3 linked regions of the Homo sapiens genome follow. The protein of the gene in region 1 interacts with the protein of each later gene in a biochemical or structural test. Each region holds a gene or a part of one and is shown in the gene's direction. Other genes may lie near its edges.

Evidence for each region. Proteins that work in one complex are often made in the same cells at the same time.
Region 2: the proteins of ALG2 (region 1) and ANXA11 form a complex in vitro, tested with the Homo sapiens proteins (one study listed by BioGRID).
Region 3: the proteins of ALG2 (region 1) and SRI form a complex in vitro, tested with the Homo sapiens proteins (one study listed by BioGRID).

The regions. Positions count from the first base shown.
Region 1 is NC_000009.12:99,215,414-99,219,313, reverse strand, and holds the end of ALG2 (alpha-1,3/1,6-mannosyltransferase ALG2), read left to right. Parts: intron 1-477; coding exon 478-1,380; 3' UTR 1,381-2,889; downstream 2,890-3,900. UniProt on the Homo sapiens protein: Mannosyltransferase that operates in the biosynthetic pathway of dolichol-linked oligosaccharides, the glycan precursors employed in protein asparagine (N)-glycosylation.
Region 2 is NC_000010.11:80,150,389-80,153,537, reverse strand, and holds the end of ANXA11 (annexin A11), read left to right. Parts: 3' UTR 1-2,649; downstream 2,650-3,149. UniProt on the Homo sapiens protein: Binds specifically to calcyclin in a calcium-dependent manner. Required for midbody formation and completion of the terminal phase of cytokinesis.
Region 3 is NC_000007.14:88,204,615-88,210,038, reverse strand, and holds the end of SRI (sorcin), read left to right. Parts: coding exon 1-56; intron 57-586; coding exon 587-700; intron 701-1,473; coding exon 1,474-1,532; coding exon of another isoform or gene 1,533-1,550; exon of another isoform or gene 1,551-1,844; intron 1,845-3,534; coding exon 3,535-3,561; 3' UTR 3,562-4,924; downstream 4,925-5,424. UniProt on the Homo sapiens protein: Calcium-binding protein that modulates excitation-contraction coupling in the heart. Contributes to calcium homeostasis in the heart sarcoplasmic reticulum. Modulates the activity of RYR2 calcium channels.

The DNA.
Region 1 (3,900 bases):
ACATGTGGCTGTTGAGCACTTGAAATGTGGCTAGTCTAAACTGAGATGTGCTAAAGTTAAAATACAAACCGATTTTGAAGATGTAATGTGAAATATATGTATATATAAAGTATCTCATTAATACTGTTTAGTATTGGTTACATTTTGAAATGATAATGTTTTCGGTAAATAATATGTTAAAATTAATTTCACCCTTAAAAACATTTTTAATATTACTAGATTTCTATTAGACAGCACTATACAAGAGGAAATCACTGGACTTGAAGCTTTAAATGTTTAGCACACATCTAGCAAACGTCTGTAGCCTTCTGTACACCAGGCATATGGTACTGGGTGAGAGTCTTGGGGAATAAAACAGAATCAGACATTGCCCATGAGGAGCCCACAGACTAGCCAGACGGGGTGGGTGTCTGTGTTTTTGGTTTGGTTGAAGTTGAGTTGACCACTTTATCCGCTGTTGATTTTTGCTTTGGCTAGGTGTCTGCCTGTATCCCAGTGTTCAGGCTGGCTAGACGGCGGAAGAAGATCCTATTTTACTGTCACTTCCCAGATCTGCTTCTCACCAAGAGAGATTCTTTTCTTAAACGACTATACAGGGCCCCAATTGACTGGATAGAGGAATACACCACAGGCATGGCAGACTGCATCTTAGTCAACAGCCAGTTCACAGCTGCTGTTTTTAAGGAAACATTCAAGTCCCTGTCTCACATAGACCCTGATGTCCTCTATCCATCTCTAAATGTCACCAGCTTTGACTCAGTTGTTCCTGAAAAGCTGGATGACCTAGTCCCCAAGGGGAAAAAATTCCTGCTGCTCTCCATCAACAGATACGAAAGGAAGAAAAATCTGACTTTGGCACTGGAAGCCCTAGTACAGCTGCGTGGAAGATTGACATCCCAAGATTGGGAGAGGGTTCATCTGATCGTGGCAGGTGGTTATGACGAGAGAGTCCTGGAGAATGTGGAACATTATCAGGAATTGAAGAAAATGGTCCAACAGTCCGACCTTGGCCAGTATGTGACCTTCTTGAGGTCTTTCTCAGACAAACAGAAAATCTCCCTCCTCCACAGCTGCACGTGTGTGCTTTACACACCAAGCAATGAGCACTTTGGCATTGTCCCTCTGGAAGCCATGTACATGCAGTGCCCAGTCATTGCTGTTAATTCGGGTGGACCCTTGGAGTCCATTGACCACAGTGTCACAGGGTTTCTGTGTGAGCCTGACCCGGTGCACTTCTCAGAAGCAATAGAAAAGTTCATCCGTGAACCTTCCTTAAAAGCCACCATGGGCCTGGCTGGAAGAGCCAGAGTGAAGGAAAAATTTTCCCCTGAAGCATTTACAGAACAGCTCTACCGATATGTTACCAAACTGCTGGTATAATCAGATTGTTTTTAAGATCTCCATTAATGTCATTTTTATGGATTGTAGACCCAGTTTTGAAACCAAAAAAGAAACCTAGAATCTAATGCAGAAGAGATCTTTTAAAAAATAAACTTGAGTCTTGAATGTGAGCCACTTTCCTATATACCACACCTCCCTGTCCACTTTTCAGAAAAACCATGTCTTTTATGCTATAATCATTCCAAATTTTGCCAGTGTTAAGTTACAAATGTGGTGTCATTCCATGTTCAGCAGAGTATTTTAATTATATTTTCTCGGGATTATTGCTCTTCTGTCTATAAATTTTGAATGATACTGTGCCTTAATTGGTTTTCATAGTTTAAGTGTGTATCATTATCAAAGTTGATTAATTTGGCTTCATAGTATAATGAGAGCAGGGCTATTGTAGTTCCCAGATTCAATCCACCGAAGTGTTCACTGTCATCTGTTAGGGAATTTTTGTTTGTCCTGTCTTTGCCTGGATCCATAGCGAGAGTGCTCTGTATTTTTTTTAAGATAATTTGTATTTTTGCACACTGAGATATAATAAAAGGTGTTTATCATAAAAAAGAAACAGTATTAGATTTTGGTCTCCATAATCTATTTTGGTATTGTTACGAACATGGATATGACAACCAAACTGGAAATCAGAACACTAGGGTAAAGTGGATATTGAAATGAAGCAAGAATATTGTCACACATGTGTTGTGCATCTTGTTTAGGGTATATTTCTTAATGTCATCTAGGTCATTAGTTTTGTTAATATTTGTGTTGTCTTGACCAAGCTCCTACTAAGTATAGGACACAAATGTTTTTTATCTTCCAAGGCCTGGCTCAAATGCCACTGCTGCAAAGCTTTCTTTGACCCTCTGGCCACCTCCCAAGCCAGAAGTTATCTTCCCCCTCCATGTACTCTAGCCTTTTCATGACACTGATATTTTCGTGACACTGACTTATAGTTCACTGTTTACCTGTTGGTCTAACAGCAAATCATAAACAGTAGTTTTCAACATACTTCTAAGGCTAAATTCATTTCCAGAAGTAGCAAAGCTTACTAGCCAAAGGCTCCACATTTATCAACTCTTAAGAGCTAGACTTGAGAGCCTAACAGCCTATATGATTTTGTGTAAATTGATCTCTATACCTCAGCTTCTTCATCTGCAAAGTGAGATAATTGTACTATTCTACTTTCCTCATAGTGCGGTTATAACAGATTATGATAATATTACAAAGTACTTAATACTTGGCATATAGTATATATATTAGCTATTAGTATTTTGCAATTTGGGGATATTGAAAATTAGAAATTGCATGTTAGTTCATGCTGCACTACCATATTGTTCTTTTGGGGCTCTTCAATGGGTGAAATTCCATTTTACAGTTTATCATGTGCATCTGTATCACAGGAGTATTTTGGCAAAATGATTCTGTACCAAAAAGGAGTACTATAAAATGAGGGTGCCAAATATATTGAGTCTTTTATGGGATTAAAAGTTCTGTTGCATTCCATTTTCTTTGGCATTGTGAAAGCTTACCATGTAGTACAGAAGGTATGATTTGGTTCATGTGTTTCTGAGAAATGCAGCCTTTCCAGGAAGCCTGGTGGCTCTTACCATGGAGTTTAGCACAGATAGACTTGGCCACACTGTGACCTACAACATGGTGCTTACCTTACTAAGCAGCACTAAACATTTGCATATTTGACCATTTTTATGCAAATCCTTTCAAATGGACTACATGGGTTCATGGACCCTGATTTTAGCTTCACTTCATTGTCCTAAGCCGGAGTGAGTGACAATAAGATTTCACAGGTCTGGGAGGGATGGAGTCCTGCCTGCCATGAGCTTCCAGCTTCTGACCATTAGTTCCTGGTTCCTGGACCCTAGAATGGAACTTTGCCCTTAAGAAGTGTTCACACCTTCCAAAACTAAGCTGAAGTTAGGGAAAGTAGAAGCATGAAACATTGAAGGTGAATTGTTGGGGCCTTATCCATAGTAATTCTGGTAATTACTTTGTGCAGGGCAGGAAAGGAGATACATACATAGCAGATGCTTAATCCTCAACAATTCACTGAGATGTAGGTATTCTTCCCTTTTAGATGAATGTAGTTAAGCAAGTTGCCTGCGTCCCATGGCCTTGAAGAATGGACAGAATCTCAAGGCCCTCTGATTCCAAAGTCCAACCACTTTACTATTCTTCAGTCTGCCCTCACCCTAACCAAATTCTTTGTGTAATGTTTTTTCAGTACAACTCCCTCTGCAGCACTGCAGTTGTAGTTGTACAGGTCTTTGGGTTTAGAAAGACTTTGCTGTTTACTGTCCATTTGCCTCTTCCCATCAGTCTTCCGAGGTGAGTATGATTATCCCCCATCTTACACACAAGCTCAGAGAGGTGAAAGACTTGCCTGAAGGCACACAATTGAAAAGTAACTGAGCCAGCATTTGGCCCTTAGTTACCTGAGCCATCCGGGACTTTGCGCATACCAGAATTTCTCAGTCTCCTCCTCTTTGATATGCGTAA
Region 2 (3,149 bases), on another chromosome or scaffold:
TGGGGCCTAGAACCAATGTGCTCTGATGTGACCATATTCTGTGACATTACCTTGCCCTGTTTACTCCAAAGTTCCCAGCCTGGTGCCCAGCAGGCAATATTGCACCTACAGACACATTTACTTTGGTTTCCAAAGTGTTTTTAGACATTTGAATTTGTTGCCAACATTTAAACATTGAGAGATTTCATATTTTTAAAAATCTGGAATTCTGGCTTCTCTTGAAAACTCAGAAATTCTGGCACTATGGGGCTTGCATTCCTGCATGGCTGGAGCTGAGTTGCAGCTGCCCCTTTAGGCCTGTACTCCTTATTTGCTATAGGCTCCGTCTTGTATTACACTAAGCCCATGTCACCCATTTGGCTCCTGCAGGCCTTTGGGTTTGAGACCCTGGTCTACACACTTGGAGACCACCTGTTGTAAAGTACATGGATGTGCTTTGGTCAAGGAATAGACCAAGGTGGATATCCAGGCCAGAGTGACTCAGCGAGTTTAGGTCACAGGCGTATACTCCACTTGTTATATAACCTGCTTGTGTAAGTTCATACTTGGCTCAAAGCCACTATTGTTTGGAAAAGGTATAACTGCCCTGCTGACGCTGTACAGATGTTCTTGGGCTCGGATGGGCATGGCTCCACGTGGTGTGCACTAGCACCCAGAGAGAGTGAAGCTATTGACCCCTGTAAGGGAGAGTGACCATCTGGCAGATAGATAGAGGGGAGCCAGGACATGGCTCAGCTTGTGCCCAGAGGGAGAGTTAAGCCGCTGACCCTGTAGCCAGGGAGTGCACCTGCAAGCATGGGGGTGGCAGGAGCCACAGAGCTGGCTGCTGAGAGGAGCTGCAGATCTGGAGAAGACAGCCTAGGTAAAGGTGGACAGTGTGAGAGCTGCTGATGAGATAGCTGCTGAATAAAACTACATTTTACCTGCCTATGGCCCGCCAGGTTTTCTTTCAGCTATCGCCCATCCACCCAGTCCCCTCGAACCTCAGCATGGGCTGGAACCTGACCCTGGGCATGACATTTGGCATAGTTGTGGACCTGACACCTGTGTTTGTCCTAGTCCTGTTTCTCCCTGCCTTCCTGTTCCTCTCGCTGCCCTCATGGTCACTCCCAAGAGATCCAACCCATGTTAAGTATGGGCTGGAGGACTGCATGAATGCCTCATGATCTTCCCAGAGGCAAAGGCACCTACTGCCTTCCAAGGTCAGTGGGAGGTTGGGATCAACACTGTTTATTATGCTTAGGACAAAAAAGATAGGGAGAAAGATGTGCAACCTTACAGGTCATCTTTCTGGGATAGAACACAATGGGTCTTCTCCTGCCTCCTGGATATGTTAGTCAAGGCCAGTCCATGCTACACATCTAGTCTGACTTCTAAAATAGAAGCACCAGATGAATTCAGCCCTGAGAGAATTTTCAGCAGCTGTGGGGGCGCTGGAGGAAACACTATTAAATAGTTTTGCACCTGAGACAGATAGCCTCACTCGCCTCACCCTAGTCCTGGTGGCATTTGTCTCAGGTGCAAAATTTAAGAAAGAAACCTTGGAGTGCTCACCCTGTGGCTGGGTAGATGGTCCTAAAGTGGTGGTTTTCAAGCCTGAGTGTGTATCAGGATCATCAGGGGAGCTTGCTAAAGAGCAGTTCCTGCGGTCAGACCCTCATGCATTTTGAGCAGGTGTGGGGACTGGGAAACTGCATCTGTAACCTGCTGTAATCTAACGCTTATCTAAATACTACTGTGCTCACACAGAGAACACCGCAAAAGTAGAGGTGTTCCTCCAGAGGGCAGGTGAGCAGATGGCACAGTCTGCTTGGAATTCAGTCAGGTGATGAGAGATGAGATGAGGCACTCCTAGCTTTGGGAAGAGGGAGCTGAAAGATGAACCTTTGCAGGTGCCCACGGTCAAAGTGGTGGTTTAATGCCATGCCATGCCCATTTTCTGTTGGCCTTGGCAGGGAGTTACAGCCCTACCTTAGGACCTGGCTCCTTATTTCTGCTGTAGGCTCTTTCCTGCCCTGGCCGAGATGGAGTGGAATGAGACCTAGAAACATCAAGCTAAATACATGTCCTCAGAAAGATAAAGGTTTACATTTTCACCCCCATCAAATCTGAAAGCTCTCTGCCTGTGTTTTTCTAAGGGATAGGGACATCATTACTCAGTCCACAACCTGGACTCATGTAGGGTCCCCTGTCAGTAAAGGAGTCAGTCAAGCCCACCAGGTATACCAAGGACTCTTACCCTCAGCCCCTACTCCTTGGAAAGCTGCCCCTTGGCCTAATATTGGTGTTTAGCTTGAGCCTGACTCCTTCTCAACACTAAGAGCTGATGAAGTCCTGAAGCAGAAAGAGCTCTGACCTGAGAGTCAAACATCCTTATTCTGATCTCAGCTCAGCCCCTGATTTGTTGTGTGACCCTGGATATGTCACTTCCTGTCTTTTTGACTTTTTAAAATGAAGGGTAGACTAGAGGAGAGCTTCTAAAACTTTAATGTGGTCAACGAAATGGAATAGGAAATTCCACAAGTCTGTCCTTCCACAAAAGCAGCAAATAAGGTGGCAAAAACTCAAATTTATGGGAACTCTGGAAACGAATTGAAAGTTTACAGCAATCAGGTGAATACCTAAGAATAAAAGCTGGATTTAGTAAGAGAGCTTTGTTGTGTTTTAGCTTACCCTGGCCCCATCCCCCACTCCCCAGCATGGCAGCAGCATCAAAAACAATATCCCTCATTCCCTGTATAGGTTCCTGTCACTGGAGGTAGCAGATTAGACCTTATTTTCAAGAAGTATGTTGATTTTGATTTGATTTGTTGCTCCCTGAAGGACTGGTTCAAATGCCTTTCTTTTATTTTGCCTAATTTGGAGCTCTCCTAAAGTGAAGATGGCAGCCTGGAAAGACGTTTCAAGGTCAGTGTATTAGTGGCTCATGCCTAGGGGAAGGAATAACATTTGGAGCAAACAGGAGACAAATTGAAAAGCTTCAGGAGGAAAGGCTAGGAAATAAGATTCTTTGGGTGAGAATAAGGACTTTAAAGAGATTCCACATATTCCTGGGAATCTGAAAGACCATACACATGCCTAGGGCTGGGCATGTGCTTAAAAAGACTTGAGAGGGCCCTATGCTGTCACCTCTGCCTGACCTTCAGGCT
Region 3 (5,424 bases), on another chromosome or scaffold:
TGACAGGAGTGGAACAGTAGACCCACAAGAATTGCAGAAGGCCCTGACAACAATGGGTAGGTATGGCTTACTAGAACTCTCCATTCATTGGTAGAAGTAAGTTGATTTTTATTTTTAAAACCAGGCTGGGTGCAGTGGCTCACACCTGTAATCCCAGCACTTTGGGAGGCCAAGGAGGGTGGATTGCCTGAGCTCGGGAGTTCGAGACCAGCCTGGGCAACACAGTAAAACCCCGACTCTACTAAAATACAGAAACATTAGCTGGGCGTGGTGGCATGCACCTGCAGTCCCAGCTACTCGGGAGGCTAAGACAGGAGAATCACTTGAACACAGGAGGCAGAGGTTGCTGTGAGCCGAGATCACACCACTGCACTCCAGCCTGGGCGAGAGTGAGACTCCCTCTCGTAAATAAATAAATAAATAAATAATTGCTACCTGAAGGCAGTTTCTGTTTTCTTAGAAATTGTGTGTGTTCATAATTAATATGAGTCTGCAGTCTTAAAAAATAAAATAGTGCTTGATTATTTTATTTTTTAATGAGCTTCTGCAATCCTTTAACCTTTTTACTGGATGGCTTTTCTTTTAGGATTTAGGTTGAGTCCCCAGGCTGTGAATTCAATTGCAAAACGATACAGCACCAATGGAAAGATCACCTTCGACGACTACATCGCCTGCTGCGTCAAACTGAGGGCTCTTACAGGTGAGTTCTATAAGGTCGTGTCATCACCACAAGCCAAGACACAGTTTTTATTACATTTCATCTCTCAGTGCTTCTCAACTTTTATTCTTCCCAAATTTTTTCTTGCTTTAGTAGTTTTTTTCAGATTACTATTAAGCATATCTGGCAAAATAATTTTTTGGTTTTTTTTCCAGAATTTATTTTAGATTAGTAAGTAATCTGCCATTAAAATAAACAATTAAATTTTACTAAAATGTTCTAAAACACAATCAGCTAACTTGTGCATTTTTGATCAGATAATAATGAATTTTTCCCCAGAATGTGAAATATTTGGAAAGAGTGAAATTAAAATAAAATCCTTTTCTATAGGGCAGAGCTGAAATGGTAGAGAAACTGATTACAGCCCATTTGTTATATTGGGGACTCTTTATCTGTTTCTTAAGCAGTATCTTTGTTATTAAGAAGCTAGAAATTCGGTGCTTTTATCACAATGAAGTAATGGCCATGGAAGTTGCACAGCTTTTACTGACTTTGGGTAAGGTATTTTCTCCAGATCTAAAAAAACAAAAAAACAAAAAACACAGCTGGCCAACTTCTGCCTGTTACTTTGTTGCATATTAAATCTTTTACTATTCATATAGTTGGCTTCTTTGCTTTGGTCTTTTGTTTATGTTAATTGGTTGCACAATTTAAATGTTACTGCAATGTGAATTCAATGCCAAAATAACTAACTTTTATGATTTTAGAAAAACCATTTAAAGAAAAACCATAAATTTTACTGTGTTGTTTTACAGACAGCTTTCGAAGACGGGATACTGCTCAGCAAGGTGTTGTGAATTTCCCATATGATGATGTAAGTCTTAGAAATTAAGAGATACAGTAGATGAAAAGGATGTACACCAGATGGGTATCCCTTTGAAATTAGCTGTTAAGAATATCTTAAGGTTAAGGATGCCAGAGACATAAGGGATTCAAAAGTTAGAAAGAGTTATCATCCAGAATTTATTAATTTCATTTATTAGTCTTAACTATAGTGAGACCATGATTTGATTTGCATTCAGAGACCTGGGTTCAAGACCCAGCTTGTTGTATTTATTAGCTGGGTCACTTAAGCAGGTTTCTTAATTGCTGTGACACTATATGAATAAAGAAGATATAGTAGTAATGCCTTTTTCACTGAGCCATTGTAAGATTTCTATTAGAAATGCCCTTGAAAAACACTATGCAGATATACTATCTGCTTTTGTCTTCTGTAAACAAATCATGTCAGTCACTGAGAATAGATAACAGCTCAATAGTTTTGCATACCTATGTTCTTCATTGAGGGCATAAGGCAGGCAACAACTTAAATCACAATTTTTTTTTTTTTTTTGAGATGGAGTCTCGCTCTGTTGCCCAGGTTGGAGTGCAGTGGCGCAATGTCAGCTCACTGCAACCTCCACGTCTCGGGTTCTAGCGATTCTCCTGCCTCAGCCTCCTGAGGGACTATAGGCATGTGCCACCATACCTGGTTAAGTTTTTTTGTATTTTTAGTAGAGACGGGGTTTCACTGTGTTAGCCAGGATGGTCTCGATCTCCTGTCCTTGTGATCTGTCCGCTTAGGCCTCCCAAAGTGCTGGGATTACAGGCGTGAGCCACTGCTCCCGGCTAAATCACAATTTAAAACAAGTTATTTACTAAACAGCCAAACTAAACAAGGGTAGGGTAAGGCCATGTAATCAGTGTGAACATAACCTAGTGCCATCTTTGATGGCATTAGCTGGATGTATATAACAAAGCTAGAGAGATTGGTTACTTGTTTCTTCAGTTTTTGCTCAGCCATTGATTTAAAAACAAAAAACAAACAAACAAAAAAACTTGTAGAATTGAAATGACTGTAATCACTGAATATTCCATTCTCCATTACAAAATATAAGATGCATGTATTTTTGGTTTAGCAGCTGCTGCAGTTATAAGTACACTTTTAAAAGCTTAGTATGTGTGTGTGAATATGCTTATTTTACCTGCTTAAGGGTGTGTTCTCTTTAACATGCGTTAACTTCTTAGTTGACAGTCCCCTTGCTGTTTCTAAAGATCAGAAGGCTGCCTGGGGAATGGAAAGAAAGACCATGGGCTTTGACTTCAGATGGGGCTACTTAAAAGATTTCTAAACATCCTGATCCTTATTTTCCTTTTCTCTAAAATAGGGATAATCACCTTGACCTTGCAATAGAGCTGCAAGGGTTAGCAGTGCACAATACCTTAGTAGTGTAGGGAACACTGATAGAGCAGAATCTATTGCTTTATGTTTAGCGGGGAAGCCAACATTTCACAGCAAATACTGGTATTTCTAATCTCAGGTATCTGAAGGGTTAGCTGTTCTGTTTCTGTGCATACATACACTTGCATGCTACAATTTGTTTTAATAAAGCAGATTTTAAGGCAATAAACTGTTTAAGGTGTTCCATTAGAGTAATGGGGTAATACTGTGTGGTTTGGAAATCCCCACGTAATACAACAGTATAAACTCCAGTTGTTTGTGTTTGTGGTAAGTGTCTTTGACCACGGCCATTTCTAGTCTTGGATATTATTTGGAATTTAAATAATTATTCAAATAATTATTTAAATTATTTATCCATTGAAGTTATATCTGCTTTCTCTAAGAAGTTTTGATGTGAGAAACCCTGTGGATTTTATATTAGACTGCTTCCCTAAAAAAAGGAAACTTTTCCATCTATCATTTACTCATATCTTAGAAAGTTGTAGGGGTTGTTTTACCCGTGTTCAAATTAGAAAACCAAATGTAAGCTGCCAGAAATAGGCTGTGCCGTATAAGTGCTTTGAGGTCTGTCATATAATGCTGATTTTTCTTTCAGTTCATTCAATGTGTCATGAGTGTTTAAATCAAGAGGAAGCTGCATGAATGTAATCAACATTCCAACTGGAGCTCTCCTTTGCTTGTCCTCTTTGCCTTCGGTAATATGTATAAACTTACATCACGACTTTCTCTTAACAGCTGTTGTAAAGTTTATTACTTTATGTACAACTGAAGTTTTGTTTTAGTTTTGATAATAAATTCTTTGGAACTTTAATAAGATCTAGTCTGTTACACCATTTAGAACTTTCCTGAGCCATTATCAGTCATGCCTTATTTTCTTGCTAAAACTCTATGTAAATTTAAGTATGCAAAATGTTTAAGTCACATTATTTATTTTTCATTGTGAGACACTAAAAACTGTTAATCAGACTACAGCTGTTATCTTTCCTCTCCTACAAAGAATACTCCACACATAAAAACTTAGGTAAATGACATAGACGCACTTGGGTGAAATAAAACAACAAAAAAGGTAATCCAGTAATCCACGTCAGGATTCACCTTAGAAGTTTAGCACACGCCCTTCAAAACCTGTTGAATAATTTGATTGGCAAATACTATCTGTCACCAAGTCCCTTTTTGTCATCTATTTAAACCTTTGTTAACTCTCCTTAAAAATCTTGTACATTATAAGCTTAACTATATAAAAAGAAAATTGATAGAAAAAGACTAAGGGAATATATGGAAATATTAACAATGTTTATTTTGGATGAATGGAATTCTAGATGACTTTAATTTTCTTTATATCAGTATTTTTCAGATTTTCTATATGCTTTCCTTTTAAAATCAGATTTTAGTTTTTAAAATACTGATACATCCATTTTGATATACCATGTATTCACACTTTAAAAAATACACATAGCAGAGTATCGGAAAGTATGTACCAAAACATTGATCTGGCTACCACTGGGAGTCAGGATCATGAGTTCATCTTCTTCCTTCTTACTGCTTTTCCAAACATTCTCCAGTAAGCAGGTACTACATTTATAATGGAAGGAATTTTTTAAAAAATTTTAAGCTGTACACTTTCAAGTAAGATCTGAATTCTAATGCTGGCTTGTGCCTCTTACTATGTGGTTTGGTCATTATAGATAATGCCCAGTTTCAGTTTCCCCATCTTTGAAAAGGAGATAATATGTTATCTCTTGGGAGTAGTTCTGAATATGAAGTGTGTTGATACAAGAAGCACTGACAATGTTTCTGTTTCTTAAATTTAAAACTGGCCTGGTTTGCCTTTTTTATCAAGAGAGCTTAACAGATAAAAAATGAAATTAGTCTATTTTCTACTTGCCAGCAGAGTATCTGTCTTATTTTAGGATGCAGTGTGAAACTTACCATTCAACTGAACAACTAGTTGTCAACTAATGAAAATAAAACATTTTCTCTAAGCATCTTTAGCCTCATTTCACTATTAATTTTTTAAAATATTGTTAAAATATATATTATTCAAACCTAACATATAACTATGGCAAGTTAGTTAGCCCAGGTTACATATCAGAATGTGAAGCAGCCTGCTATATATTACACAGTGACTATAGATTGCATCATCTCCGTATATTGTCTGTGAGGCCATAAAGCTCTGCTTGAGTCTGGGCTATCTAGAAAAGGGCCAAAAAGGGGCTCAGAGGATTAGGAGGCAGGGAGCTCACCTTCAGTGTCCTAGCACCTGCTGTTTGGTTTCAACTCACCAGGGTCCTCTGAGGAAATCATAGTTTAAGGAAATGGTAATTTCCTGGTTGAGGATAAGCAGTAGAGAAGGCCCTTGCTGAAGGATATGGGCCATATTTGAACAAGTCCCAAGGTGTGCTGCATCAGTTGTGGTTCTGAATTGGCTTTGGGGTGAATACAAAAGCATCCCTCTGACATTATATTAGTTTGTTCGCACACTGCT